6 separate regions of the Homo sapiens genome follow, and all the other regions are linked to region 3. The links come from fine-mapping of genetic effects on gene expression. A gene starts in region 3. Each other region holds a variant in brackets. All regions are shown on one strand. Distances are from middle to middle. Region 1 overlaps RNF141 (ring finger protein 141). Region 2 overlaps AMPD3 (adenosine monophosphate deaminase 3). Region 3 holds the start of AMPD3 (adenosine monophosphate deaminase 3). Region 4 overlaps AMPD3 (adenosine monophosphate deaminase 3). Region 5 overlaps LYVE1 (lymphatic vessel endothelial hyaluronan receptor 1). Region 6 overlaps CAND1.11 (a long non-coding RNA gene).

What was found. PIP is the estimated chance that this variant, and not a neighbour inherited with it, causes the effect.
Region 1: its variant is the best candidate, but not a certain one, in a credible set for the expression of AMPD3 in lung (TOPMed, PIP 0.81).
Region 2: its variant is the best candidate, but not a certain one, in a credible set for the expression of AMPD3 in whole blood (INTERVAL, PIP 0.76).
Region 4: its variant is the best candidate, but not a certain one, in a credible set for the expression of AMPD3 in whole blood (TOPMed, PIP 0.71).
Region 5: its variant is the best candidate, but not a certain one, in a credible set for the expression of AMPD3 in whole blood (Lepik 2017, PIP 0.58).
Region 6: its variant is the best candidate, but not a certain one, in a credible set for the expression of AMPD3 in whole blood (TOPMed, PIP 0.54).

Annotation. Positions count from the first base shown.
Region 1 is chr11:10,521,599-10,526,715 of GRCh38, reverse strand. RNF141 (ring finger protein 141) reads left to right here. Exons shown (of 6, transcript NM_016422.4): 4 at 1,343-1,524. Among named protein-coding and RNA genes, the nearest start is that of MIR4485, 16 kb to the right of the region's middle. The variant G/C (reference allele first, on the strand shown) is at 2,499.
Region 2 is chr11:10,499,682-10,504,798 of GRCh38, reverse strand. AMPD3 (adenosine monophosphate deaminase 3) reads right to left here. Exons shown (of 15, transcript NM_001025389.2): 11 at 4,550-4,713; 12 at 3,209-3,329; 13 at 1,905-2,078; 14 at 140-250. Among named protein-coding and RNA genes, the nearest start is that of MIR4485, 6.1 kb to the left of the region's middle. RefSeq lists an enhancer at 4,137-4,730. The variant C/T (reference allele first, on the strand shown) is at 2,827.
Region 3 is chr11:10,452,887-10,458,003 of GRCh38, reverse strand. It overlaps AMPD3 (adenosine monophosphate deaminase 3), which reads right to left and starts at 2,740. Exons shown (of 15, transcript NM_001025389.2): 1 at 2,556-2,740. RefSeq lists an enhancer at 1,816-1,865.
Region 4 is chr11:10,479,252-10,484,368 of GRCh38, reverse strand. It overlaps AMPD3 (adenosine monophosphate deaminase 3), which reads right to left. Exons shown (of 15, transcript NM_001025389.2): 4 at 2,144-2,306. Among named protein-coding and RNA genes, the nearest start is that of MIR4485, 27 kb to the left of the region's middle. The variant C/T (reference allele first, on the strand shown) is at 2,160.
Region 5 is chr11:10,556,969-10,562,085 of GRCh38, reverse strand. LYVE1 (lymphatic vessel endothelial hyaluronan receptor 1) reads left to right here. Exons shown (of 6, transcript NM_006691.4): 4 at 1,286-1,591; 5 at 2,192-2,270; 6 at 2,789-5,117. The coding sequence ends at 2,975. The region is part of intron 1 of IRAG1-AS1 (IRAG1 antisense RNA 1); the gene reads right to left. Among named protein-coding and RNA genes, the nearest start is that of LYVE1, 9.1 kb to the left of the region's middle. The variant G/C (reference allele first, on the strand shown) is at 2,442.
Region 6 is chr11:10,410,930-10,416,046 of GRCh38, reverse strand. CAND1.11 (a long non-coding RNA gene) reads right to left here. Exons shown (of 4, transcript NR_103765.1): 3 at 5,071-5,117. Among named protein-coding and RNA genes, the nearest start is that of AMPD3, 42 kb to the left of the region's middle. The variant G/A (reference allele first, on the strand shown) is at 2,504.

The DNA.
Region 1 (5,117 bases), 69 kb before region 3:
CCGCCTCCTGGTTCAAGTGATTCTCCTGCCTCAGCTTCCCAAGTAGCTGGGACTATAGGCGTGTGCCACCATGCTCAGCTAATTTTTTGTACTTTTAGTAGAGATGGGGTTTCACCGTGTTAGCCAGGATGGTCTCAATCTCCTGACCTCATGATCTGCCCACCTCGGCCTCCCAAAGTGCTGGGATTACAAGCATGAGCCACCGTGCCTGGCCGCATGACTCATTCTTGAGTCTCAGTATTTTTTTCCCTGCCTTTTCAAATAGTAAGCAATTAATAAACGTGTTACAACTATTATTTTCATTTACAATATTCAAATGTATAATAATATTTTAAAATATGTAATCTACCTCATTTTCTGATACCCCTAGTTCCATCAATACATTCCAGAACCTAAAGTCACAATTTTATGGCCCTGTGTCTTTGTCTCTCTCCCTATATTCTTCATTTCTTTCTAAATATTTTCTGATTTTGCTTGTTCTTACTCTGATATGCACTTAATAGATTTCATGGCTTACTTCTTCCCCAGTCTTCCATCCTATGTCTTGTGCTGAAAGGAAGTCTTTCATGTCTCTAATCTTTCTCTGATTTCAAGTTCTTCATCCAAGAACATTATACCTTCACCTTACTGGCCTCGGTCATTTCATTATGCCTCACTCCATGGCTCCCCAAAGCTTGTGAAAGCAATCTCCTCTGCTTGCCCCAAGTATCTTCTACATTAGATTGTAAACTGGATGGGGGAGAGGTACAACCTGTAAAGGTACAACCTTTGGGCCACTGGTTTCACCTCATATTAAACGAGTTTTTTGATAAAGCTCAAAATGGCCTTCTGGGAAAAGTCCAACCACCTTTTGTTAGGATTTATTTTAAAGTAATTTTCTTGCTTTAGTTTAGAAGTTTTGGTACAAAATAGAACTTAAAGATATTTAAGAAAGTACTTGTTTGAGTTGTAGAATCTCATGCGGTTGTTGGAGTCAAATGAATCCTGTGGTTAAGAAATTCTTTAAGAAATTAAAGTGAAAGAATTGTTAATACTGATCTCTAAAATTTATTTCTTAACTCTGAGAAAGTCACCTTACCCATCAACAGCATAATGCCTAATTAATCTTACAGGGTGATTTTGTGTGTTAAATGAGGTAAATTTGTATAAGAAGTTTGAACCCCACAAGTGTAGGGGACATGGTATTACTCATTTATTCAGACTCTTGCTTTCTTATGTAATTTGCAAATCCTGAAAACTCCTATTTCCTAGGATGTTTGACTAAATATTTGTTCCCCCTTTTTGGGAAAAATTGGTCAGAGAAATGATCAACTTTTCTTTTTCATGTTCTTTGTATTTTTAGATTAACAAAAGCAGTGGCATTGTGGAGGCATCACGGATCATGAATTTATACCAGTTTATTCAACTTTATAAAGATATCACAAGTCAAGCAGCAGGAGTATTGGCACAGAGCTCCACCTCTGAAGAACCTGATGAAAACTCATCCTCTGTAACATCTTGTCAGGCTAGTCTTTGGATGGGAAGGTATATAATGCATAAGTATTGTATTTCACTTATTTTCTAATATGAAAACAACTGAAATCTATTAATATTTTTGCTGTTGCTCATTGTAGCATCTTAAATCTTTTTTTTTTCTCAGTTGGTATTGTATCTGAGATCAGTTTTGGGGTTATTCTGTGCTTCGGATGTTGTTACAGTGCTAAATTAAAGTGGCTTGGCAGGGCCACTTTAATATTAATGTTTCTGTCACACTGGTCTCCAGGAATCCGCTCTATATGCATGCATTTATTGACAAAGGAGATAGTTAACACCTTCCTTATAATAGGTATTTAGGTTCTTAGACAGTCAAAGCTTTTTAGGGAATTAGGTCAAAGAATTTGGCAAAATCATCCCACTTTTTTTAAAAAATGTCTAATTGAAGCATTAAAATTTTATATATTGGCTTCAGGACTTGGCAGTCCATTCAGGAAGGAACCGAATGCATATACTTAGTTACCAGAAGGAAATGAAGTCAGCCAGAGTTTTCTCTGATGATGTTTGTTTACCCAGGCCTAATACATTATTGTTCTATCTAAACTTTCTTTTCCTTCTCTGTTATGCTTTTGGCACATGAAAGTTCCCACTTCTTGACATTTGACAATCATGATCATAATTTAAATTTGTAAATATCTCATTGGAAAAAGATTTACATGGGTCCAAACATGTTGACATCCTGTCTTACTGTCATACTGGGTAGATAGCAGAAATCTATATTCACCGTGTCCTTTACCTTAAAGTTAAGAATGTACTTAACAGTGATTTTTTTTTTTTTAATTGAGGCGGAGTCTTGCTCTGTCGCCCAGGCGCGATCTCGGCTCACTGCAAGCTCTGCCTCCCGGGTTCACGCCATTCTCCTGCCTCAGCCTCCCAAGTAGCTGGGACTACAGGCGCCCGCCACCACGCCCGGCTAATTTTTTGTATTTTTAGTAGAGACGGGGTTTCACCGTGTTAGCCAGGAC[G/C]GTCTCCATTTCCCAACCTCATGATCCTGCCCTCCTCGGCCTCCCAGAGTGCTGGGATTACAGGCATGAGCCACCATGCCCGGCCAGTGGTTTCTTTTTTTTTACTGCTCTATTTACAGTTGCATTTTCTGGTTCATTCTTAACCAACTGGTTTTCAAGCACTATGTTACAGTTAAACTGTATTTTCCATTTATTATTTCCCAATTATCTTTAATAGAATTACTTGGTTTTCTAGGTTTGGTCTATACAAGTGTTACTGATAGGCCAAGTGACTTTTAGAACATGGTAGGCAGTGTTTAGGCTTGTCTTTCCTGTATTCTGTAATCTTTCAAAGATGGATCTGATTTTTCTGCTTTTCTTCTCTCCAGAATAGTGGTTGTTGTTTTGTTTAATTGTTTTAAAAGCTGAGGATGGTGTTTGCCAATGTATTTAAGCTGTATGGTAGCACATGAAAAGAAAGTATTGTTTTTTTCTTGTTACAGTCTTCTTAATGAAGAAGGTAAAGGTGTTATCCCTTTTCATGTGCCCTCAAAACTGGAAATTCAGTTCCTGATTAGCTTGTTAGGGGTGCTTCTTGTTTTTGTGTGTTTTTTCAGTTTATAATAATACCCTTATACACTAGTTCACAGAAAGAGACTTTCTAAATTGAAGGAGGTCTTAAGGGATATTTATGTAGTTGAACTTTACATCTGATGCATAATTCCATTGATGTTTTACATTTATTGATTACTTACAGGGTATAGAATTGTGATGAGTGTTGTACATGTATAAACTCATTAAATTCTCACAACCCCATATGGGAGTACAATTATCGGCCCATTTCAGCCAAAGAATCTGAGATTTAGCTAAGTAAGTGTCATGATTAGAAATTGTTCTAGCCAAGACTCACATTCAGGCCTGTCTGGCAGTACAGCTGTGCTCTAACCTATTACTTTATGGTGCATAAAGATCTTGCACACAGAGCTTCTGAAAATTTATTACTCAGTGGTTTTGAGGAGGAGCCTGAGAGTCTGTCAAGCTCCCAGGTGGGGCCAATGCTGCTGATCCTCAGATAACACTTTGAATAGCAAGACTCTGCTTACCCACATTTTGCCAAGTCCGACTTGCAAGTACAAGTAACACCTGCAGTTATGTGAGACTCACTGCCTGAAAAAAGCAAGCCTTTTCATACTCAGATGGCTCTAATCACTATGAAGTTTTTCCTATTGCTTCATTTTCCTCAGAGTAGCCAAAATCTTTCTTGAGGCAGCACGGCACAGACTCTAGCAGCAAGTTGCCTGTGTTCAAATCCTGGCTCCACTCCTGTGTGATTTTTTTGACAAATCAAACTGTTTCCTCAGTTTCCTCATCTTCTAACAGAGGTTGATAACTGTAGTATATGCTTTATAGGATTTTTGAGAGAATTAAAAGACATAAGATGCTCAGAACAGTGCTTGACACATAATAATTTGTCTATAAGAGTTAACTGTCATTATTATTGTTACTATATTCTATTTATTGTTTTCAATGGCTGTGCCCTCTGGAATTCCTCCAAACAAATCTGTTCTCTTTTCCAGCCTTTCAAATATTTGAAAACAGTCATCAAATTCTCACTGAACCTTCTGTTCTCAAGGATAAACACCCCCAGTTCCTTTGGCCTTTGTTTATGTGGGTCTCGTCTACATACTGGAGGCTTTCCCAGATGGTCTTTTCTCTGTCAGTATGTGTGCCTTTCAGAGTATGAGGCATAGAACCAAATATTCCAATCTACAGGTGATCTAACAGGAACAAACAGCACAAGACTCTCCTTCCTTCTGGTCACTGTGCTGCTAAGAAGGTAGCAAAAAGTTAAGAGAACTTTGTACTGGTTCCACTGGCTATTTCTGTATCTCCCATTCTTTTATCTCTCTCCACAATGCTCTTCTTTGTAGTCCTCTGCTTCTCACTTTTAAAGTCCAGCCTTCAGAATATTCTTTCACTCTGTACAGATTCAGTTATATTCTCTGCTACTGAGAAACTCAGATACATTAGACCCATATCCATCTAGGTTTTTATTCAGTTTTCCCATTCCAATTCAGTGACTTCCCTCTTTTCCCTGTTACTAACGTATAACACTTAATCTATTACCACATAAAAGATTTGTCTTTTATAATGCTTCTTAGACCTAATTATCTCTCAGATGAATTGCTGAAATAAGATCCTAACCAGTTTTCCTCTTTCTAGACTGTCCCTCATACTGCACTCCCAATTTATCTTCCTGAAGTACCATATCAGTTGGAGTTCACTTCCCCTTGATTATACACTGATTGTAGTTTGCTTGTCAGGACACGTTCAAACTTAATATTTTGACATTTAAGGATGAGATTATCTCCACTTTATCTAATCAATCTTTTTCCTCAGTTTTCCATACCCAAGTATCATGCCAGCTTCCTGGTTACATATACACAGACATAAACACACATGATTTTGCTTTTTACCTCTACAACTTTGTTTATGCACCTAGAATGTCTTCTATTAAAATCCTATTGTTTTTCTATCTCATCATTTCAACAAGTTTGAGATATATTCATCTCTTCCTTCTTTACTTAGCACTTACTATATTTAATATACATTTGACATTTATTTTTACATTCAAATCAA
Region 2 (5,117 bases), 47 kb before region 3:
GTCTTCTCTCCCTGTGCCTGAGTGTCTCAGAGGCCCTGCCTGCTATGTTCATCACAGATCCCCAGTGCCTGGAAGGCTCCTGGCACACAGCAGGCAGCCTTCCCAGGAGGGACACAGGCAGCACCGTCACACTCCATACCTGATGCGAGAGGCCGCTCTGCAGCACGCTGTTCCTGGCGATCTCACACAGGTCGCAGGTGCTCAGCTTCCACACTTGAGCTGCAATGGCATATTCTTCCATAAGTGCTTCCTAGATCCTCCCCCAAAGCATGTGGATTAGAAGGGGGGATATCCATGTCAATCGTTCACACATGTCCAAAGCTAACAACATCAGACACTGCGGGTTTAACTTTTCCTCACTAAATGGCACCTGGATCATCAAACATCACACCTTCAAAGCCTAAGATCTTTTCTTCTGTAAAATCATGGGTTATCAAAGAGAGATCTAAAATCACGCCTCTACATTTATTCATTGACCAGCACTGAGACCTCATGTTGAAACCCTGTGCCAGTCATCAGGGATGGCAGTCTCTGCTCTCCTGTGACAAGCCCTCTAGTCATGCCACATTTAGCACTTGCCCTCTAGCTTTTCTTTTTAACACACTATTTTCTTAAGTTTGCAATAGATAGATAGATGATAGATAGATAAATAGATAGATAGATAGATAGATAGATAGATAGATGAGTAAAGTACTAAAAGCAGAGATGGAACATCAAAAAAAAAATGAGAAGTGATCATAGGATAAGTGGTAAAATGGTGTAATCCCAGAATGATCTGGGTTTGAGCTGTGGTTTTGCTTCCCTTCTGGGATGTGAAGTGTCTATTCATCACAAGCCGTCTGTGACCTCTTCCCCACCCCACTGCCGCTGTAGCCTAGAGCAATAGTTCTCGAAGTACAGGTCAAGGACCCCTGAGGGTCCTAAGACCTTTTGAAAGGTCTTGTCTTTTCCAATTATGTATTTTCATGAGGCAAGATTTCTATTTTTACATATTTTGATTAAAAACAAATTGAATGCAGAAGTGGCTAGAAGAGTCCTGCTGACTTCCATTAAGACATTAAAGAGGCTTAAAAATGCAAAACAAAGGCAGGGGAAACTGTTACTTTTCAGAAAAAAAATCATTATTATGTAACATTTCATTGGTTTATTGATGTGGTTTTTAAATGAGATAATAAATATTTTAAAATTTCTTATTCATTTCTAACATGGTAAATATCAGTAGATATAACCCACATAAACAACAGGTCTTTGAAAGCTTCAATTCTTAAGAGTATAAAGGGGTCCAGAGACCAAGAGGTTGGAGAACCTCTGTCCTAAAAGACTCTGGTGCTTCTGTTTTTGTTAAGCAATGGCTGGTCTTGTCGACACCATCAAAACATGCTGGGTATACTTGCGGCTAGTCCCCATGCATGACACCACTGTTAGCTTCCTCTTTTATTTTCCCAGAGACCCAAAGTGTAGAAATTATAATAGCATTGATTTAAAAAGTAGCAACCATTTTGAATATATGCAGACACTATGTTAGAACCTTTGATTCATTATCTTCATGAATCCTTACAGGGTAGGGACAGAGAAAATTTTATCTCCATTTTACAGATGAAGAAGAACTTGATCCAGAAATCTAATAACTTTACCAAGGTCACAGAGCTCATAAATGTCAAAGAAAGAGAAAATAGAGGAAGGCAAAGATACTAAATTGTGCCTTTGAGGGTTCAAGAACCCCAAAGAAAGGGCTCCTGGATGGCACAATTTTCCCCCAACAGTGGCTTCCTTCCTGCCTTCACTGGGCCACCAACCCCACCCCAAAAGCAGAACTAAGCCATGGGCTCAGGTTCCTGAAATGGGAGGACAGGCTAGGACTGGTGCCTACTGAAGCACTACTGTCCTCACCCCAAAGTCCTTACCTTCGTGTAGTGGAACTGCATGGGGTCATCGGTGGAAAGAGAAACATGCAGTCCCTTGTGTAGGAATTCCCTCAGAGGGTTCTTGGAATATTCGAGGAACAAACTGTTGTTGCTAAGAGGAGACATGGCAATGGGGATCTGAGCAAGGTAGTAGAGATACTGCAATACCGGACTCTGCAAAAGAACCACCGAACTCATGTGACAAGTGCCAGAGAGGGGAGAAGGGAAAAGGGAAGGGAGAAAGGAAGGGAAGAAGCATTCACCAGTGGAAACCAGGGGTCTGAACCATGTCTGCCCAAGTCCTCAACCCGAGTTCCTCGAAGCCAGGACACTCAGACCCACTCTCCCCTTCCCCACTGTTCATCTCATTCCTACATTGCATGCCAGCCCTCCCTGGTGCCTCTACCCACTGTTGGAAGTGCTCATTCTTGCTCCAAACTGGAGGCAAGGCTCAGGGCAGGAAGGGCAGCCCACTCCAGCCTACACCTTCAGCTCCTTTCTCCTAGGCACGGACCCAGTCTAGAAGATGCCCCCCTCTAGCTGTTTTATTGCTTTGACTGCAAACAGCCAGGTTGAGACTATAAACACTCCAGCTCCTGGGAGATGATCCCTGAAGGGATGGGAGGGGTGGACCTGCCCAGGATAGAGTGGTTTTCTACTGTAGCACCCACCCCACCCAAAAATGTGACCCATGGTTACACCTCACCGGGATCAGGGAAAGGGAGCATTTTGATCAAACATCGTGCCAATGGAAAGTGATCCAAAATACGGAGAAGACTGTATGCACAGAGCTCAAGGGTACACCAGTGAAAAGGTGGATGGACTCTGTGCCCAACTAGTGTGGACTGGTTGAGTCAATTACAGACAAAGTGGCAGACCCTTCATCCAACAACAGCCTTTGGAAAAAGGAGCATAGATATTA[C/T]GTTGCAGCATCAAAAAATGCTTGTCATACAACAGTAAGGGACGAGGCAGGAACCAAATTCTGTGTTCATTATGATAATAAACACATTAAAAATATGCTGTGGATAAAAGATGGAAATTAGATATACTAAAAAGCTAATAATGGCTATTTCTATTAATGTAATAGCATAAGGGCTGGCTTTTTTCCATTTCTCCAGTTTTTGGAAAATCAAAATTGTGATGAGTTTGATTATATTACTTTCATAATTAAAAATAAAACCAAGATAAGGACAGACATCCCAGCCCAGAAGAGGGCCCAGCCTTCTGGCCTCACTGGTTGAGCCTCCCAGGAGCCCAGGGCAGGGCAGTCACTCAGGACGGGCTCCCGAGAGTGACCTGGTTACCTTCTTGAGGAGCAGCCCGTGGGAAATGTTGTCAGCAGTGAGGAAGGCAGACACCAGGTGGGTGATGGAGCCGGCTTCCCCACAGTGCGGCCGGAACAGGAACGTGCTCAGGCCGCGCTCCCTGTAAGAGAAGGGGTTTCCGAATCAGGAAGGCCCCCCCCAGTTGGCTCTGCCTGGGGCCTGCAGCCACAGCTCAGGGCCAGCTCCGGGGGGAATGACCACCCATGGTCAGCTGTGCTGACCCAGTGCACCCTGGAAACTACCCCTCCTAAAATGCAGAGGTCCAGGCCCTGGGGCCCCTTAGAACCAAGAAGCATCACCTCTACGGGCAGAGAGTGGGCCTCGCAGTAGAAAGAGACCCTGCTGTGCCCTCCAGCCACTCTCCTGAATTCCTCTCCTGGCCTTGTGTCCCGCATTCGTAGAACTCCAGAGCAGGGAAGGCCATGAGAAACCACAGAGTCTGACCTCTGTGTTATGGAAATGGGCAAACCAAGGCCCGGAGAGTGAAGTCTATGTTCCATGCCACTGAACAGGTCAGTAGCAAAGCCAGAACCAGAGCCCCCATCTCCAAAAGCTCAGCCCAGGACTGCCTCCACCCTGCCAGGCCATTTCTTTCAATCAGGACCCCATTCGAAACCTCCACACCCACCAACTAGCACCAGTTTAGGCTGAGCTAGAGAGACCCCAGGGCCCAGCAGGGGAAAGTGGGATGCAAGACTTGTAGGGAAGGGAATGGCTCAGTGTCCTGCTGCCCTGGGCAGCTAACTCCTGGCCACGTGTGCCTCGTCTGTGTGCGTATTGGTAGGAGCCTCTGCCTGTAAGGGCATGCATGGATTTAGTCTGTTTTGTTCCCCGTTATTTGTCCAGTGCCCAGGGCAATGCCTATCGCATGCCAGATGCAGTGATTTGCTGAACGAAAATATGCACGTGTGGACATTGTTGGTGTGGCAGTAAGTGACCGTGCATGTGTGATAGCATGTCCTATGCTTCCATTATCTCAGGGATGTACAGGTACACGTGGAGTGTGCCCTGGTGTGTGTACATATAAATGTGTGGACACGTGTGGACTGTGGCTGCATTGCATACTGTACATGACATATGTCTGTACTGGCATGTGTGTTATGGTGGGCATGTTTGCATGTGTGTGATCATGTGGAGACATGCCTCATATAGCAGGCTGGAAAGTGCTGTGTGTTTTGAGGTGTGTGGGCACATGGACATGCATGTTGGTTCAGGTGCACACGGACACAAGGATCACATGCATGTGTGTGTGCATGTGTGTGCATGCGTGCATGTACTAACACATGAACCCAAGCATGTGCGAGGGCAGGCCTCACGCACCTGCGGAGGTTGTTGAGCACCATGATGTTGGCATACATGTAGTACAGGTAGTAGCTGTAGGGTGGGTTCTGCTCACTGGTCCAGACGTCCGGGTTTGGGCTCTTGTCGGAAAACATGTGGTCGCTGTGCTTGGACTCATCATCCACGCTGTCAAACCCCGTCACCTGGGCAGGAGAGGTCCTGAGCACCAGGCCAAGGCAGGACCAGGACTCAGCCTCGGTTCAGCCTCCCAGAGCTCATAGCTGCCAGAGGCCTGTGGGTCTGGGCCCCTCAGGTTCACACCTCAGCTGGGGACCCCTTGGCCTGCCTGAGGCCATATTCCTCCCAGGGATGAAAAGTGGGTACAACACCAAGGTCTGCCCCTTCGGAGCTTCCATAGGTACTCTGGAGGTGAGACAGGAGAGTGCCAAGCCCCTGTGTGGTGGTGGTGACAGTGGAGGAAACTGCCAAGCCAGGTGAAGGGCAAAGCAGCCATGGCCACCACCTGCCCCTCTGCTATGCCGAGGCCAGCCTGCAGGGAGGAGTGGCCATTGCCATCAGCAGCAGCGACAAGCGATGAGGGAAAAGG
Region 3 (5,117 bases):
TCCCTTGGCAATGGGTATTTGGGTGGGAGGGAAGTCCTTGATGTCTGAGGGCTCTTATGCCAGATCCTGCCATGTTTGCTCATGAAGCATGCATTTATTCATTGATTGATTGAGAGACAGGGTCTCAGTTGCCCAGGCTGGAGTGCAGTGGCACAATCACAGCTTACTGCAGCCTCGACCTCACAGGCTCCGGTGATTCTCCCACCTCAGCCTCCCGAGTAGCTGGGACCACAGGCACACACCACTATGCCTGGCTAATTTTTGTATTTTTAGTAGAGATGGGGTTTCACCATGTTGGCCAGGCTGGTCTTGAACTCCTGGTCTCAAGTGATCCGCCTGCCTTGGCCTCCCAGGGTCTAGGATTATAGGTGTGAGCCATCATACCAGCGCACAAAGCATTTTTAGCTTGCTCTAATCAACTAAAAATACTTTTCAGGACACAGCTTTCTATAACATATCTTCCTTTCTCTTTAGCTTAAATCAACCTTTCCCAAACTGGATGCCATAAGAAATTGATACCTGTTGCTGGTAAAACAGGTCCTGTGGTCAGTTATTGGGAGATGTTGCATTCCACAGCCCCTCAACTCACATTCATAAGGCTCATTAAAATCAAGGATCATAGAGTAACATTAACATACAGAACCCTTTTTGTTTTACAGAACCCATAAAAATCTTCCGCAGAACTACTACCAGTGTCTTAAATAGTTGGTAGATAATTCATTCCAAGACCGGGTGCAGTGGCTCATGCCTATAATCCAAGCAATTTGGGAGGCTGAAGAGGATCGCTTGAGGCCAGGAGTTCGAGATCAGCCTGGTGCAATATGTCAGAACCTCATCTCTACAAAAAATAGAAAAAAAAACAGCCAGGTGTGGTGGCATGCACCTGTGGTCTCAGCTATTTGGAAGGCTGAGTTGGGAGAATTGCTCGAGTCCTGGAGGTGCAGGCTGCAGTGAGCCATGATGGCACCACCGTACTCCAGCCTGGGTGACAGAGCAAGACCTTCTCTCAAAAAAAAAAAAAAAAAAGCAAGAAACAACAGCAACCACAACAAAATAATTAATTCCATATCTTAGTATGGACCAAGTAACCCACTTGGGGTGCTGCAGGCCTTAGCAGCTGCCCCCACATCTGCTGCCTTCTGGATGTCCTTGGCAGACAGCTCCCACCTGCCAACCCGTCCCTCCAGAGTGTCTCTCCTCTCAGACCCTCCAGACACCTGCCAGGCCAGGCCTGACAAGGAAAGCTCACTCTGCAGATGCCAAGCAGAGCTTCAGCTCCAGCTGCATGTTCACGCCTGGCTTCCAACCCTTTGTCAGCTGAAGCCAGCAGGCTTGGGAGGCTTAGCTGTGAATTCACCAGCATCAGTCAGCCAATGATACAGCTTATCTCACTGTTACATGCAACACGCTCTGATGAACTTGAAGAAGTGTCCCAAAGTTAGAAAGTTCTAAAACACTGCCAGTTTCAACAAACAGTAACTTTTCATGGTGCCACAGTCCCTCCAGAAAGGAAGCCCAGTGCCACTGAAATCCCCTCGTTATACGAAGGAAGCTGGTTCCTACTCTTGCCAGACTCCCCTTGCAGAAGCCCCGACACAGACCTGAGCCTGGCTCCATGACTGGTCCTGAAGATGCCACTCAAGTGATGCACCCGGGTGAGGTGCTGCCTGCCACCCAGGAGGCTCAGCTGAGTCAGTGCGTGCGTGCAGCTGGCTGGGTCCTGTCTGCCGGCTGGAGTAGGAGGTCTCTGTTTTGCATATCTGTGAGCAGCAGTGAGCCAGAGCAGGAAAAGCCTGGGCTGGAAATTCTCTCGTGAATATGAAATATGAGTGGAAAATTTCCAAGAGCCCTGAAGTCCCCAGGTAATCCCAGTTATCCAAAACAAAATGGCTGTGGTATCCTGAATGCAGTGTCCTGGCCCTCTTCACAGCCCTCACAAGAGGAAACTAAAGCGGCGGCTTCCTCTTTACAACAGTAAACTCAGCCGTCCTGCCCAGCTGCAGGAGATAAGCCACAGCCTCCCTCTAACGCCCAGCCTCCTCCTGAAAGCTGAGTAGCAACGAGCGATATCATCACCTTTGCTGCTTCCGTTCTGAACGTGCTTCAGGCCTGGCTGCATTTTATCAAGGGGATTGGTCTCAGGTACAGCCCGACCTGCCTCTTCTCAGAAAGCCCCCCTAAAGCAGCCCTCCCAAGGGCACCCCATAACTGCCAGGGGGAGCTTCAATCCCAGTTGCTAATACAATCCCCTCCATCCCCTCCTCCTCTGAAAGGGAAAGACCATGAACTGCTTCCACCTTTCCCAGGAAAGGACAGAGACTCAGGGAGCAGGAACTGCCTCAGCACAGAGGCGGACAGAGGACAGGGGCAGGCTAGGATGAAAAGCTGACAGCCCCATCCCACTCCTTCCTTTCTTCCCAGAAGGAAGCCCACATCACAGGTGACTGCGAAGCCTGATAAGCTTTACCAGAACCCCCACCCCCATCCACACACACAGAAAAGGAGTACACCCCAACTGACCCACCGGAGCCCACCCCAAACCCTCCCCTGCTTACAGCCGCTCACTGCTCCCACGTGGGCCTCCAGCTCCGAGCGCTGGCTGGACTCTGCCACTCCTCCTGGGGAAGGTGGAGCCTGCCTCAAGTGACCCACAGGAGCAATCCTCTAAAACCAAGCAGGGTTGATTAAAATGGCATCACAGGGTGCAAAGCTCTGATCTTCATCTGCCCTTTAGGAGAGTGGGAAGGCTCAGAACAGACACATAGCCTCCCAGTGACTTAGGCAAATCCTGTGGTCCTGGGAAATAACCATGAGCAAAATGGCTATTTCTGTGGTGCTGTTGAAATCCTGGGGAGAAGAGCTCAGGAAGGATGGGTCAGTTGTTTACCGGGAGGCTAGCTGTAACCCTGACTTGGGCCTGAGTCACCTCCGCATGTCCAATCGTGAGGTTGTGTCTTACTGAGCTCACATCATAATTCCTGTGTGCACAGAGCAGTATTACAGGGTTGACACATGATCCTCGGGCTGCTGCTGGGCTTTAGCTACCCAGAGATTACGGCCCACCTGTCCTCACAGCTGTTTCATAAACAGTGCAACCAGCAGGCTACAAGCAACCTAGAGGGAGGGTAATATTTATTCATTAAACAATTAAATGAACTTACAGTATGAGAAAAAAATCCAAGCCCTTAGTACTATTCTGCCAGAAGGAGGAGGGGCAGATGACTTTTTCTGCTAGTGTTTTGGGGAAAGGGGAGGTAGAGTGGGGACTGCAGTGGGAGGATTCCAGCCCAAGGATTTAAGTCCGACACGTTCAGGGAATTTTATTCTGCACCTTTAACCGGATCCCAGCTAGCCTTAGTCTAAACAAGCATTTTTCAAAGTGCAGTCTGCAGAACATGAAAGGTCAGAAGGCTTGGAAAACACTGCATCCTGTAGTCCCTTATGGGTATTCATGCACAGTTTCTACTAGCAAATTCAACACCTGAGAAGTCCTGCAGTAAAGAAAGCTGCTTAACTTTGTTTAACCCGACGCACTTATTTGACCATCCTAGAACTGCTGTCATAGGAAAAAAACACCTATTAATATCTTGTGGTATCGGCTTTGGGAAACACCCTCCACCTTGAGTCTTCATTTTCCAACTTAGAGAAAGCTGCCTTCCTGGAGCCCAGTTTACAGGTATGAGACCCATTGCATCGGGTTCAGACAGAAACCAGCAGCAGCTCCACTAAGATGACACAGGTTGTAACAATGACCAAGGGTCCTGCTGAAGCCAAAAGGCGGGAAGACTCCCCAGAACATGGGCAGTTTAGAAGAAAAATACAGTTCTGTCCCAGAAGAGCAAGCTCTTCTCAGGACCTCACAATTCCACCTTGAGCCTAACTTGTTGCTGCTTCTTGCAGCCAAGATGTCTCTGTGGACTGAAGAGCACTGATCCCAAGCTCAAAGCCTTATTTCCCTTTCGAACAAACATCAAGACAATTTATGATAACCAGATACAGGGCCCGCTTCTCCTGCCCGAGACTAGACTGCATCCCCTTTTATCACTTAAGCACCCCTTACAAACTCTAAAAGACAGGAGAGGACGGAATCAAATTATGTCTCATCAAGAAAGATATCGGCCGGGCATGGTGGCTCATGCCTGTAATCCCAGCACTTTGGGAGCCCGAGGCAGGTGGATCACAAGGTCAGGAGATTGAGACCATCCTAGCCAACGTGGTGAAACCCCATCTCTACTAAAACACAAAAAATTAGCTGGGCATGGTGGTGCGCACCTGTAGTCCCACCTACTTGAGAGGCTGAGGCAGGGGAATCACTTGAACCCAGGAGGCAGAAGTTGCAGTGAGCTGACATTGCACCACTGCACTGCACTCCAGCCTGGCGACAGAGCAAGACTTTATCTCAAGAAAAAAAAAAAGAAAAAGAAAAAGAAAGATATCACTCTCCTCCCCAAAAGCCAGGCATGAGCTTGCATAGAGGGGTTCATTTTTCTTCTCATTTGTGAGGTGTGTGTGACTCACACAAGGAGTTGGACAAAGGGGATTCACTTGCTAAATACCAGCTCCATGACAAATCTCGCCTGTCTCATTCACAGTTGTATCCCCATACCTGAAATATGGTCGACATTCAGCAAGTATTTGTTGAATGAATGAATGCATAAAACAATGAACAAGTGAACTAGCTATTTATAATAGATCAATCCACCTATGGCAATCTCAGGAATGAGTAGAGTGTATGGCTAAAAACGTAGACTCAGGCTGAGTGTGGTGGCTCACGCCTGTAATCCCAGCGCTTTGGGAGGCCGAGGCGGCCAGACCACTTGAGGTCAGGAGTTTTGAGACCAGCCTGGCCAACATGGGGAAACCCCATCTCTACTAAAAACACAAAAATTAGCCTGGCATGGTAGCGGGCGCCTGTAATCCCAGCTACTTGGGAAGCTGAGGCAGGAGAATCGCTTGAACCCGGGAGGTGGAGGTTGCAGTGAGCTGAGATTGTGCCACTGCACTCCAGCCTGGGTGACAGAGTGAGACTCCATTTCAAACAAACAAACAACAACAAAAAAAACTCCAGCTAGACTCCCTGCATTTGAATCCTGTTCCACCACTTAGTTGTATGACCT
Region 4 (5,117 bases), 26 kb before region 3:
CCGAGCCCAGGCCAGGTGAGGGGCTAGATAAAGAAGCCACTCCCTCCCCAAAGGAGCAAAGGATAGGGAACTTGTCTCCCCCAGAGCAGAGAATGCCAATGATAAAGCCATCTGCCCCCAACCACTATAGGTTAAGGTTAGAATTAGCCAACAGGAGGTAGAAAACTCCTCTATGCAATTTCCCTGCTGTGAGACTTTCAGCAAACTCCTTTACCTCTCTGAGCCTATCTCCTCTGAAGATAACACCCCCTGCCTTAACACGCTGCTGTGAGGGTTGCAATAGTGTGTATAGGAAAATTCTTCATAAACAGTAATGCACTACAAATAATGAATTATAGGATATTATTCTTATTATTCTCATAATTAGTTTTCCTGACTCTTGATAAACTCTGTCCCTGGCCAAGGAGTGTATTGATGCTAAATATCAGTAGAGCTGGAGGCTTCAACTCCATGCAGCTCAGCCAGCACCATCCAGGATCAGCTGTCCAGCTGCCAGCATAGGCAGGAGCAAACCTCAAGATCTGCATCAAAGGAAGCTGCCAAGGCAGAGTGACCTGCCTGGGCATCCTCCATCTGTGCTTGGAAGGAACAGACCATCCCTAGAGCACATGTGAGGAGCCACAGAGGGGCTGATGCAGGCAGAGCTGGAGAGGGGAATGCCCCATCAGGCACGGCCACAGGCCAGCTCAGGAGGCCCTAATGCAATGCAGTGGTCTGTGAGATGCAGGCAGTTCAAGGCCCGGGTGAAGCTACAGCCTGCATGTTCGGAAGTTGCTCCTCTTCCCCATACTCATGCCCAGAACCCAGGGGTCCTCTGTCCATGTAAAGTACACATTTGACAGTCATTTCTGTCTGTCTTTGCCAAAACTGGGGTGGTAGGACCCACTTCCCTCAGATAGGGAAATAGGCCCAAAGGGCTGAGATTTACCTAGGGCCCCAGATGCTCAAAGTACAGGACTTGAAATTCAAGGAAGCCAGAGACTGGGGCAACTTGGCACCACCAGCTACCCCCAGAGGCAGCCAGGGTCCCAGGCATTGATGGAGACCACCAGGCCCTTATGTGTCCCCCACCACCAACTTTCAGGAGTGGGGTTTCCTACTGTCCTCATCACTGCCTCTACTGCTCCTAGGTTCTTCATGGCAAGGCTTCATGAGGAAACCACCTAGCCCTCTCCGACCTCCCCTTCCCTGAACTCGGCAGCATAAATGTAGCTACCATTTATTGAACACTCACTAGATGCCAGAACTGAACTAAGTACTTCACATGCATTCTCCTGTTTAATCCTCACGACAGCCCTGGGAGATAGGTATTATTTGCATTTCCATTTACAGATTACATTTTACAAAGTGAGGCTTAGAGAAATATCTTTCCCAAAATCCCAAGAAATTGACAGAGCCCAGATACAAATGCAGGTGTGTTTGACACCAGAGCCTACATGTCTTCCCAGGGAACATGCCCTCTGTTCCTACTCCCACCCCGATCCACCCTACCACCAATTTGGCATTTACTGTGTGATTGTGTTCTTTTAAATATGCCACATGAGGCCAGGCGCAGTGACTCACATCTATAATCCCAGCACTTTGGGAGGCCAAGGCAGGAGGATCACTTGAGCCCAGGAGTTTAAGACCAGCCTGGGCAACATGGTAAGACCCCCATCTCTACAAAACATAATAATATATATTTTTTTAATTAGCTGGGTGTGGCGGTGTGTGCCTTTGATCCCAGCTACTTGAGAGGCTGAGGTGGTAGGATTGCTTGAGCCCAGGAGATTGAGGCTGCAGTGAGCCATGATTGCACCACTGCATGCCAGCCTGAGCAACAGAGCAAGACCCATCTCAAAAAAAAAGAAAAAAAAAATTCCCACATGAGACTCCCTGTCTCCCTGGTGGACTCCCAAGAACAAGGACTGTCTTTCACATCTCTGTCTTGACTTCAACAGTTCAGCTCTGCACAGGCTAGGCATACAGTACACATAGAATCAATCCTTGGGGGAACCATCAAACATCAGTGTGGGAGAAGCCAATGAAAGAACATTGTCATTTTAAAATACTATCAGGGGAAATAGACCGAGCCAGAAAAAAGCCCTGACTAGCTCTCGGTCTGCCCACACTTGGGACCCAACCTCCAGCCAGAGCTCCATACCTGGAAGGCCCTCTTC[C/T]GGAGGTGCAGTATCCGCCCGCGGATGACCCAGGTACTGGGATGTGATCCGCGGGAAGCGGTGGTAGGCGAGCCGCGCATACTTCTCCCGGATCATTAGGGCCTTGGCCAGACTCTTGGCTGCCTGCTCATAGTCCTCCAAAGTGATCTGCAGAAGGGAGGCAGGCAGGAAAGGGTTCATGCAGCAGGCCTGAGACTGCCATCCTTGGAAAGATGTGCTTGCAAGATTGGCCCTTGCCTGGTATCTGGGAACCTAGATTTCAGGAGGGTTCTCACCACTCCTTGACCAATAAGAGTGGTTCATTGCACCTAAACTACTTGTACAAACAATATGGTTTATGTTGGACACCTGCTTTCCTTCTGGAGCCTGGAATTTGAGATGTGCTATGCAGACATGTGACCAGCCCCAGTGAAAACCCTGGGCACCGAATCTCTAATGAGCTTCCCTGGTAAACAACACTTCCCACATGTGCTGTCACAATGTGATGCTGGAGGTATTTGGTATGTTCTGATGACTCTGCTGGGAGAGGACCTTGGAAGCTTGCACCTCGTATCCTCCATGTATCGCTCCCTTTGCTGATTTGCTCTGTATCCTTTCACTGTAATAAATCAAAGCTGTAAGTACAGCTATATGCTGAGTCCTGTGAGTCCTCCTGGTGAATCATCCAACCTGGAGTGGTCTTGGAGACCCCCAACACAGGAGACACAGGAGGAGTTAGGGTCGTTGGAAGACAGACAAGTGCTCCAGCCTGCACACCCAGAAGCCGGCCTCACATGCAGCTAATTAAGCCAAAAGTCTGTTTTTGTACCAGGCCCATGGAGGGACAAAGCCTGAGTCCTATCCCTGAAGGCGATGAGCACCGTCATTTTCAGTTGAGAAAATTCATGTGTCCTTCAGATGGCGAAACAAAACAAGAAGCAAAAGCAAATTCTGCATGCTCAGCCTGCTTCTTTGCCAACCCCACACTTCTGATTAACTCTGTTAATCACCCAACTCATCCAGGCAACAAGCCCCATTGTCATGTGTTATGTGCCAGACCTTTCCATAGATTTCATTTTGCTCCTTACAGCAACCCATTTTGCAAATGGGAAAACTGAGGCCCAGAGAGGATAAATCACTTGCCAGGAAGCTACAGAGTCAAATTTCAGACTCTAACCTGATTGAGTCCCAAAGTCTAAGGATGTTCTGCTTTACCAGAGCAGCCTCATATTCAAAGATGAATGAGATAAATTCCCGCCTTCCAACAGGCTCATTAATCTTAGTCTGTTTGGGAAGGATGGGAATCGCAGAAATATGCTTGGGGAGACAAGTGGCCAGACAGACACAATGCAGGGTAAGGGGAACAGCAGAGGGAGGCACCATATGCTGGCATAGCCCAGAGTGGGGAGGGCTGGGGCCTGAAAGTGATCTCCTCTGCTTTAATAAAATCATCATTTTTAATTTTGTAATATTTTAAACATACAGACAGGCACCAAAGATAATATAACCTACCTTCTAGAGCTGACAATAATATTTAGCATAATTCTTTCAAATTTCTCACAGGTTTAAAGAAATAAATCATCACAGATACAGCTAAAACTCTACTCTCCTCCCTACCCCATCCTCAGAGGGAAGAAGTCTGAATATATTTTTCCTATGCATGTTTTTATACTTTTACTAAATACTACTAAGAAGTAGTATTTAGTAAATACTAAATACAAAAAGCAAGACTTTTTGTTACGATGGTAGATTCTCCTTTCCTGCCTCCAAATGTCCCCATAAGGTATGTTAATTCCTTTTACATCTTCCAGTGGATGGCTTCTGAGAGCGGCAGGAATAGGTGAGCAGACACCGACATCCTAGACAAAAATATGTCCCTGCCAACAACGAAGCCAAATTCTTTCTCTGGGGAACCAATGGACTCAGCATGACAAGGGGCTCATGCCATGGCTAAGGACATCAGAGAGGATGCTCAGGACCCCTGTGGACCCGTGGCCACCGGCCAAGCTTACAGGCATCACAGGCCCCATGGCTGACAGCAGACCTACTGCGTGCCAAGGAGATCTGCAAGATCAGCCTGCCTCTCACAGACACTTAGCTTTCTGAGGACCAGTTGCCCAGTTCAGGTGCTCCATGCACTACTCTGTGCCAGCCAGGAGACTGGGAGAAAGAAGCTATTATATGCTACAGGCTGACATCCTCCCATTCAGCTGGTGGCCGACCCACCTCGACTCTTGCTTTCCAATGCCCTGCCCACCTGCCTCAGGTTGGGTGAACACCAAAGACTCATGGTCAGGATGCTGATCTCCAGACAAGGCCTGCATTGTTTCCAACCCAACCTAAACTCCCATCCATGGGAACTTAATTAAAATAAGCTATGATATATCCTCATAAAGGAATACTATGTACATATTTTTTAAAAGGACAAAGAAGTTCTTTATATATTGATATGGCATTATCTTTAAGATGTATTGTTAAGTGGAAAATGCAAGATGCAGTATAATGTATATTGTAAACTACCATTTTTGTAAAAATAAGTAAATAAACTATGTATGCATAAATAATTGTAGGTACATAGACCATATATGTGAGAATACATAAGAAACTAAAACCAGTGGTTGCCTCTGAGGAGGAGAATGGGTGGCTGAATAATTGATACCATTTTTGTATCTTTTAAATTTTGTACCATCTGCAAGTGTTCTCCATTACACATAACCAAAAAAATTTTTGAAAGCTAGGGGAAATTTTATAGGAAGAGCAATAAGCTGCATTGCTTTCTCAGATTCACCATATTTTCTACAGCTACTGTTAAAAAGAGACTAATGAAGCCAACTGAGGCGTTAAGTAGTGAGTTGGGGCCAGGGAGATGGAGCCAAACTTAACCCTGGCACTAACTCAGTGATATTTCTCTCCAAGAAGCAGACATGCATAAAAAATGCATCATCCAATCAGGTGAAATTAGCACATTTTCAGTGACTG
Region 5 (5,117 bases), 100 kb before region 3:
GAGGAAGAGGACTTGGATTTGTCTATTTCCTCATGGTTTCATTTAACTTGTACTCCCATCCCATGTATTTCTTTTCTTTTTTTCCAGAGATAATTTTATTTTATTATTTTATTTTTATTATACTTTAAGTTCTGGGATACACGTGCAAAATGTGCAGGTTTGTTACATAGGTATACATGTGCCATGGTGGTTTGCTGCACCCATCAACCCGTCACCTACGTTAGGTATTTCTTCTAATGCTATCCCTCTGCTAGCCCACCCCCCAACCCCAGCTGATGCTACCCACTGCCACAAATAATTAGGGACTTAAAATAGATGCAAATTTATATTATAATATATTGCATGGCTCTGCCATTTACTAGCTCTGTGACTTTGGGCGAGTTATTCAATTTCTCTAAACTTCAGTTTCCTCCTGTGTAAACAAGGGTTTAGTAATATTGTTCAATGAGATACCTATTTAAACACTTACTGCCATGGTCAACTCAGATTAAGATGCTTTAACAAGTGTTTCCTCTCTAGCACATGCAACAGATTGGAAAGCAAACCCTTATCCCTCTCCTGGTCCCTTTTTGTTCACTTCTTTTTTTAATGAGCCCAGAAATATCAGGTCTTAGCATATCTTTGTCCTGAAGTGACACCACATGTGTATATTTGGTCTTCCAATCTATACTTTCCTTCCTTTCCCTTTTCCTTCCTTCCCTATTCATCAAATAGTTATTGAGCATGTGCTATGTACCACACACAGTGCTCATACCATGCTGACCAAGACAGACGGGGTTTCTGCTGCCAGAGAGCTTGCAGTCCAGTGGGGAACAGTGTAATGAGAACTGTGACAAGGAAGTACAAGAACATATGCCAATCAAGTCAACAAGTCTGCCTGAGAAAGACAGGGTCAATCTGAGACCTGAGGGATGAGTCAGAGTAAGCTAAATAAAGAGAGGCAAAGAGTCATAAAGGTGAATAAAGCATCGTGGTGCAAGGCTTGGATGTAAGATAAAGTGTATCAAGGAATTTCAAGTAATTTCAGTATGGCAGGGGCAATGAGAGAAAAAGAGCAGATGAGGCTGGCATGTTAGCAGGGGCCAAATCACAGAAGGCCTTGTAGGCCATACAACAAAGATAGCCACTGAAGGCTTCTAAGGAAGAAAGTGATATGGTTAGATTTGCTTTTTAAAGACCATTCCAGCTGCGGTATAAGGGGTTTGGAGGTAGTAAGACTAGAGGCAAGAAGAACAGTTAGGAGGCTGTTGCAATACTTTTATTCCATGTTTCCCTATCCCAACAGATACTTGGACTAACTCGTGCATTCCAGAAATTATCACCACCAAAGATCCCATATTCAACACTCAAACTGCAACACAAACAACAGAATTTATTGTCAGTGACAGTACCTACTCGGTGGCATCCCCTTACTCTACAATACCTGCCCCTACTACTACTCCTCCTGCTCCAGCTTCCACTTCTATTCCACGGAGAAAAAAATTGATTTGTGTCACAGAAGTTTTTATGGAAACTAGCACCATGTCTACAGAAACTGAACCATTTGTTGAAAATAAAGCAGCATTCAAGAATGAAGCTGCTGGGTTTGGAGGTAAATGGTTTCTGTGTCTATGTTACGTGTGTATGTATGTTCATGTATAACAGATAATTCATAGAATCCTGCCTGTCTTTAGATGAGGCGCTCAGGACCTGTCAAATACTAATAAAAGCTTAACACAAACTCAACTTTCATGAAGTCATAGAATCTGAGAGCTGTAAAGAACCTTAGTGATTAAGCTAAAAAGTGTAAGTATAAAAGAATTTCACTGTTGAAAACTCAAGACTTTTAAAAATAAATCACTATCTGTTCCTATGCATAAGTTCTTTTTAAAATATATACCCTAAAGGCCTATGACTTTATTCTAGTCATCTCTTTCTCAGGCAGGCTTGTTGACTAGAGTAGGTCTCAAGGCCATGGAGGAGAAATGAACTCTGTCATATTGCAACTGATAGAATTGAGAGTGTGAGAAGCAAGGCCAATGATTCTACAAGCATGAAGCAAAGAAGCTGGTGTGGGCCCAATATCATAAAGGGCTACAGAGAAGGTTTTTCTCCTGTACTGTCTACTGTCTCAATCACCTGGATCATGCAATGAGCATTACACACAATGTTTAAGTGAAGGACCAACAGGCCTTGTCTCTGTTCCTTGCAGGTGTCCCCACGGCTCTGCTAGTGCTTGCTCTCCTCTTCTTTGGTGCTGCAGCTGGTCTTGGATTTTGCTATGTCAAAAGGTAGGGTTGTTGGTGCACTGCTAGTCTTGTAATCTTTGTCATGTTTCTATCCTGTGCTTTTTCAGGGTCACTGTTGGCATTTTGCTGATCAAAATGGAGATAGCAGTCCTCTGATATAAATTTCTCCCTCATCTCATCTCTTTCCCTTCAGCCCAATCTTTTCTATTTCAG[G/C]ACATGCATGTCGTCCAGCCATCAGTCAATGACTGTCCTTTGAAAATCAAGAAATTAAAAAAAATTGACATCTGGGGAAAATTTATATGCTTTATTTGATTTTTGGTTCTTTGTTTTTGTTGGAAGAGTTATGTGGTCAGCCTAAAGTCTGGCCTGCAAACATATTGTCCAATTTAAATGAATCCATTAAGGTGGTGATGTCTTAATGTATTAGAGCATGCATGTGCTGGCATCACTCTGAAATAAAGGTATCCAGTGTACTGTGCCAATATGTACCATGGCCAAAAAGTGTTATCTATCGTTATGTGTGAGAGTCTCTCACTTTAATTTCATGTTTCTGCCTAAAGGTATGTGAAGGCCTTCCCTTTTACAAACAAGAATCAGCAGAAGGAAATGATCGAAACCAAAGTAGTAAAGGAGGAGAAGGCCAATGATAGCAACCCTAATGAGGAATCAAAGAAAACTGATAAAAACCCAGAAGAGTCCAAGAGTCCAAGCAAAACTACCGTGCGATGCCTGGAAGCTGAAGTTTAGATGAGACAGAAATGAGGAGACACACCTGAGGCTGGTTTCTTTCATGCTCCTTACCCTGCCCCAGCTGGGGAAATCAAAAGGGCCAAAGAACCAAAGAAGAAAGTCCACCCTTGGTTCCTAACTGGAATCAGCTCAGGACTGCCATTGGACTATGGAGTGCACCAAAGAGAATGCCCTTCTCCTTATTGTAACCCTGTCTGGATCCTATCCTCCTACCTCCAAAGCTTCCCACGGCCTTTCTAGCCTGGCTATGTCCTAATAATATCCCACTGGGAGAAAGGAGTTTTGCAAAGTGCAAGGACCTAAAACATCTCATCAGTATCCAGTGGTAAAAAGGCCTCCTGGCTGTCTGAGGCTAGGTGGGTTGAAAGCCAAGGAGTCACTGAGACCAAGGCTTTCTCTACTGATTCCGCAGCTCAGACCCTTTCTTCAGCTCTGAAAGAGAAACACGTATCCCACCTGACATGTCCTTCTGAGCCCGGTAAGAGCAAAAGAATGGCAGAAAAGTTTAGCCCCTGAAAGCCATGGAGATTCTCATAACTTGAGACCTAATCTCTGTAAAGCTAAAATAAAGAAATAGAACAAGGCTGAGGATACGACAGTACACTGTCAGCAGGGACTGTAAACACAGACAGGGTCAAAGTGTTTTCTCTGAACACATTGAGTTGGAATCACTGTTTAGAACACACACACTTACTTTTTCTGGTCTCTACCACTGCTGATATTTTCTCTAGGAAATATACTTTTACAAGTAACAAAAATAAAAACTCTTATAAATTTCTATTTTTATCTGAGTTACAGAAATGATTACTAAGGAAGATTACTCAGTAATTTGTTTAAAAAGTAATAAAATTCAACAAACATTTGCTGAATAGCTACTATATGTCAAGTGCTGTGCAAGGTATTACACTCTGTAATTGAATATTATTCCTCAAAAAATTGCACATAGTAGAACGCTATCTGGGAAGCTATTTTTTTCAGTTTTGATATTTCTAGCTTATCTACTTCCAAACTAATTTTTATTTTTGCTGAGACTAATCTTATTCATTTTCTCTAATATGGCAACCATTATAACCTTAATTTATTATTAACATACCTAAGAAGTACATTGTTACCTCTATATACCAAAGCACATTTTAAAAGTGCCATTAACAAATGTATCACTAGCCCTCCTTTTTCCAACAAGAAGGGACTGAGAGATGCAGAAATATTTGTGACAAAAAATTAAAGCATTTAGAAAACTTCTTTGCTTTCTTATTTACGTAGATGCATTATACCTTTCATGTAAAATTAAAGTGAGGACCAGATCATATCATATTGTTTGCAAAAATAAAAGGGACAATGTTGGTTGTTAAAATACAAGCATATGTCAACCAAACAGCATATATCATATGGGGCTATTCATGCTCCAAACATTTTATTTTGAGTTGGCCAAGTACATACACATTAAACAGTCCTTTACTAGAGATGCTGGCCCTCCATTTCCATCCATTTCAGAATTCACCAGGGAGCCAGAGATCCAGGATGGCTCATTCGTCTCACTTTTGACCGCCCTGCTTCTCTAGTTTTCTCTTTCCCTCCCGCTTAGACTGCTAATTGTCTTCTTCCCCTCACCAGTGACCCCACAGCTCCGTGGTTCCTTCGGCCCAGATGCCACAACCTGCTGGCATAATCTTTTCCGGTTGGCCCACGGAGTATAATCTTAAAATTTGATTTCATTTCCAGGCATTAAAAATCAAGAGATTTCACATGGTTACATTTCTGGGTTCCCTCTAAAAATGGAAAGATCTGGAAGTAAAGAACCCATGTTCCCTCATAGCAATCATTATCTGATACTGAGTAGCAGCTGTCCCCTTTCAATGGGGTCTGCTCTTTTTGTTTCACCACAGTCCTCATGACTCTCTGTTGCACACTCATGCCAAAGTAAAGGTGCCCTTTCCTATGAACTTTGTAACACTGTGGCCTTTTCTTCACACCCAGCCCACGTCCCTCATATATATCACCTGCCTGCCCCAGTAGGTCTATGAGTTTGAAACTGGTTTGTCAGTCCTTAAGCTTTATCAGCTTCATCCATTTCTCAGGGAGTAAAGAAGAAAAGAGGGAAAGCGCCTAAGTAGTGATCTTCCCTCTGTGTGTTAGCTG
Region 6 (5,117 bases), 42 kb after region 3:
CCTCAGGAGTCCTTGGCCTCCGAAGTGCTGGGATTACAGGCGTGAGCCACTGCACCTGGCCAAGACTCATTTTAAGCAAGCAAATCATTTCAATGCAGACAGTATGGCATGCAGACAGCTTGAGATGCAGAAGAAGACTTAGAAGCAAAACCAGACAATAAATGAAGAGGATGCTGACAGAATCAGGACAGAGATAATCTCCTGGACACATCTGGCTACAGCTGTCACAGTCCCCTAGAGAAGAGGGACTGGCATCAATAACTGAACAGCACTTCACCCTTTTTGTGATGATTTTGTGTCTATACATTTGCTTAATTCCACTTGTATAGTTCTCATCTCCTAGTGCCAGTATAGTCATTCTAGACTGACCTCTGTGTTGCCATTGTCTTTACAGAGTTCAGGAGAAAACAAAACACCATAAGAAATGCTTGTTGTTATTTAAACAAACAAACAAAAGATACCTAGGCCAGGTGGATTCCAACAGGTAGTCACTGTTTAGGTTCTGCTGCCCAAATGGAGCCAATCAGGTAACTGCTGTCCTTGCCCACTTGGCAAATGTAGAACAAGCCAGAACATTAAAAAACACAGCCTGAACATGCCTCATGGCTATGTGGGTGTGCCACATATTACACAAGGACATAAATTAATTAAGAAGCAAGGAAGGGACTTAGGACTGGGTGAGACATGAAGGAGTCCAAGAAACAGCAAGAACTCCAATCACTGAGAACATGACCTGGGAACCTGCCAGCCAACTGTGCCATCAAGTTAATAAGAATGTGTCGGCCGGGCGTGGTGGCTCACGCCTGTAATCCCAACACTTTGGGAGGCCGAGGCGGGTGGATTACAAGGTCAAGAGATCGAGGCCATCCTGGCCAACATGGTGAAACCCCGTCTCTACCAAAAATACAAAACTTAGCTAGGCATGGTGGTGTGCGCCTGTAGTCCCAGCTACTCCGGAGGCTGAGGCAGGAGAATCGCTTGAACCCAGGAGGCAGAGGTTGCCGTGAGCCGAGATCACACCACTGCACTCCAGCCTGGCGGCAGAACGAGACCCCATCTCAAAGGAAAAAAGAAAAGAGAGAAAGAGAGAACGTGTTGCTGAGAGATGCCAAGTCTCTGCAAGATGACTGAGCGTTTTTCTTGTGCCGCCTCTTTTCTAAGAAGCTAAAGAAGAGGCGATCACAGCTCCAGGACTGCAGGCACATCAGGAAGGAAGTGGGAGGTCCTGGGGAAGCCGCCACCAGGGCTTGGCCGGCTCATGCTCTTCTCAGGGCAGCAAGAGTTGAGGTTTAGGATGCTGAGGTTTCAAAAGTTTGGCTGACTCCAGCCTTCCTTAGTTCTGTAAAAATTCCACAGGAGTGCTGTGATCCCCCTGAAGCCTCCAGTCACTCCTAAAGGAAATTATTTTCAGGCACCTTACTCCCCTCTTTCCTCTCTTCCAGATGTTAAGTTTTAGCTCTCTTCTTTGTTCATAAATATGTTGCTATTTTTGTTTTTGTTGTTTTTCCCCAAACCAAAAACTTCAATAACCACAGAGAAACACAAAGAAAAGGAAACGGTGATAAATAGCCATTGCCCACACTCCAGCCCACACTCTTAGAGAGAATGTGCTCTTAACATCTGCTCCGAGCTAGACCACAGATTTTAGTTTTAACATGGAGGAAAAATAGGCTTCCTTAAAAAGAGCCACACAGGAACATCCTGTATGTCACAGTCCAGGAGCCTCCTACGCAAAAGGGAGCTGGAAGTCAGTGCCGGGTGCAAACGACATGCATCTTCCCTGTCTGATGGTCTCGGGGCCTCCCAGCCATTCTGAGTCCCACTCCTCACCATTGCACTTGACGGAGCTGGCTGACCACGTGGAAAATTACCCAAGGGCCATAAAAAAAAAATTTCCAGAAAGTTACAGAATGTCACAATGGAAAAGCTGTGCGGCTTGGGACAAAAGAATGGAGCAAAATCTTTGCAGAGCAACACGTACTGCACCTTTCCTGAGCTGTCCCACGCTCCCCACATCCACTGCCCCTGCCCTCACCTTTCCCTTCAATTTGTGCTTACTGACCCTTTATAAAATTAGGAGACTTTGTGTCATACTCTGGCCTAGAATGAAGCAAAAGTTCAAGAGACACGCTGTGGAATGCCTGTTCTACCCACATCCCCCTCTCCAGGGACTGTCTCTACTCCTAGTCCCTTTAGCTTAACTGGTCATTCATTCATTTATTGTACATGTATGTATTGAGCACCTATTGTATTCCAAGCACTGTGGTAGATAAAGATATGAAAAATGAGCAATGCAGACAAGGACCCTTTCTCATAGAGTCCATTTTTTAATGGGGAGAGTTAGCTGGTATGCAAGTAAACAAATAAAATAATTTTGGATAATGATACCTACTATGAATTTTTTAAGACAAGCAAAACAAAGTGATGTTCTAGAGCACGGGTCCCCAGGGCCATGAACCAGTACCTGTCCATGGCCTGTTAGGAACTGGGTGGCACAGCAGGA[G/A]GTGAGCTGTGGGCCAGCAAGCAAGTGAAGCTTCCTCTGTATTTACAGCCTCTCCTCATCGCTCACATTAGCACCAGAGCTCCACCTCCTGTCAGATCAGTGGTGGCATTAGATACTCATAGGAGCGCGAACCCTATTGTGAACTGCACATGGAAGAATCTAGGTTGTACGCTCCTTATGAGAATCTAATCCCTGATGATCTGAGGTGGAACAGTTTCATCCCAAAACCATTCCTGGAAAAATTGTCTTCCATGAAACCAGTCCCTGGTGCCGAAAAGGTGGGGGACCACTGTTCTAGCAAATGATTTGGGAGAAGGGGTTCCTACTTTAGATAAAATAGACTAAGAGAGCCTCTCTGAGAATGTATGAGCTTGCACCTGAATGATGAGGAGTTGTGGCTGCAGTAAGCATCAAGATTGTGGCTGCAGTCTTCCTTCTTGGGCAGAAGGAAGAACAAGTATAAAGGTCCTGGGGTAGGAATGGGAGATGACCAGAAAGGCCATAGTGGATTAAGCCTGTGTAAAAAAAAAAAAAAAAGGAGTTTAGGCTGGGCACAGTGGCTCACACCCATAATCCCAGCACTTTGGGAGGCCAGGAGTTCAAGACCAGCCTGGGCAACATAGTAAGACCAAATCTCTTTTTTAAAAAAAATTAGCCAGGTGAGGTGGGGTATGCCTGTTGACTTAGTTACTTGGGAGGCTGAGACAGGGCCTGGGAGTTTGAGGCTGCAGTGAAACATGATGAAGCTGCTGCACCCCACCCTGGGCAATAGTAAGACCTCATCTCTAAAAAGAAGAGAAAGAGTTTGCAGAGGAGCAGAGGCCTTGGTAAGAAGTGTGAAATTTATTTTAAGGCAACAGGAAATCACTGGAAAATTTTAAACAAAGGAGTGGCATAACCTGATAGACATGTTTAATGGAATCATTTGGCTACTATGCGGAAGGTGGATCCTTGGAGGGCCATAGTGGAAGCCAGGAAACCACTCAGGAGTCAACTGGAATAGCCCAGGCAACACATGATGGTGGCCTTGACAGGAGCAGTCAGTCAGCAGTGGCAATGGAGAAGCAGACTCACTAATCATATATCATGGAGGCACCGACAGGGCTTGCTGACATAGTAAATGGGAAAGGAGAAAGGAAGAGCAGAGTGAAGCATGATCCTGAGTTTTGGCCTTCAGCCACTCAGTGTATGAGCATGACTTTGATGGGAAATACTAAGAAGGAACTGGTTTGGCGGTGAAAATCAAGAGTTCAGGTTTGCCCAGTTAAGTTTAAGATGCTATTAGGCATCCAAATGGAGATGTCTGGGAGAAGTAGATAGTTGAGATTCAGGGAAGCTATCAAGGCTGCAGATAAATATGTGAGAGTCATTGGTATATAGAAAGTATTTAAAGCCCTAGGACTAGATGAGATCAGCTAGGGAAAGTGTATAGATAGAGAAAAGAAGAGGACCAAAGAAAGAGTCCATGGGAATTCCCAGAAGAGGAAGATATAGCAAGAGAGGGTGAAGCATGCTCAGTGGATGTAGCAGACAAATCAGAAGCATGTGTTATCATGAAGGTCAAAAGAAGCAAGTTTTTCAAGAGTGGTCAAGTGTGTGGAATGCTGCTGAGAGACTGAGTATTATGAAGACAGACAGCAAAGTGACCAAGAGATTTGGCAACATGGAAATGGTGGTGTCCTTGACAAGAACAGCTTCAAAGGACTGATGGAGCTGAGAGAATGTGTTGAACAGTGACTAGGATTTCTAATGAAACATGGGGGTGTAAACACATGTGGTATGTCCATTCCATCCTGACACCCACTAAAGTAAAAGTAATGAAATTTTGTTAAAAAAGAAAAAGAGTGAGCCCACAAGAGCAAAGAGAATGGCATGAACATGACAGAGGACAAGAGAAGTCAATAATTATTGGAAGAGGTAAGAAGCTGGATGATAACCAGCTTAGCAAAGCAGAGAGAGCTGAAACCAAAGTGAATGCAAAGAGAAATGTTAGCAAGAAGCAAGCAAATTCCGACCACCGACCCCACAAAGCCTCATGCATTGGAGCCAGGGTGAAAAATGGGGCTGAAAACAGGTGGATAGGGCAGAAGTCTTTATAAGAAAGTGTTTCTACCCCAGTCCTCCTCCCAACTCTGCACTGCCTGGAAACTATCCTGGTAGGCCATAGATAATTTCATCTCCAGAGAAACTGATCCAGAGACACTCAAGGATAAGCGATACCTGGCAAAGAGGAAGTTAAAGGTGAAGCACTGTCCTGAAAGCAGGGAAATTAAGTGAAATCTACATATGGGATGGTGAGACCCTCCCACCTTCCCCAGCTCAGCAGCCAGCCCTGTTGACAGCCCTCTCTGGAGGGGACTTAGGGGCTGTGGGTTACTCCCACTCTGGCTGGTAGCAAAGTTAGCCATGTACAGGCAGAGGAAGCCAATCAAGATGAGAGGAGAGAGAATGTAGTAAAGAAGAAAGATGCTGCTGTCCCTGGGAGATGTGGACAGCTTTGGGTGCTGGCCTCAGGCCAGGAGCAGATAGCCCTTCCAATCACATGACCTGGTGCATGCTCACAATACCTTTTCCTTGAGCCGCTTGAGTAACTTCCAACCTCCTAGGCAGATGA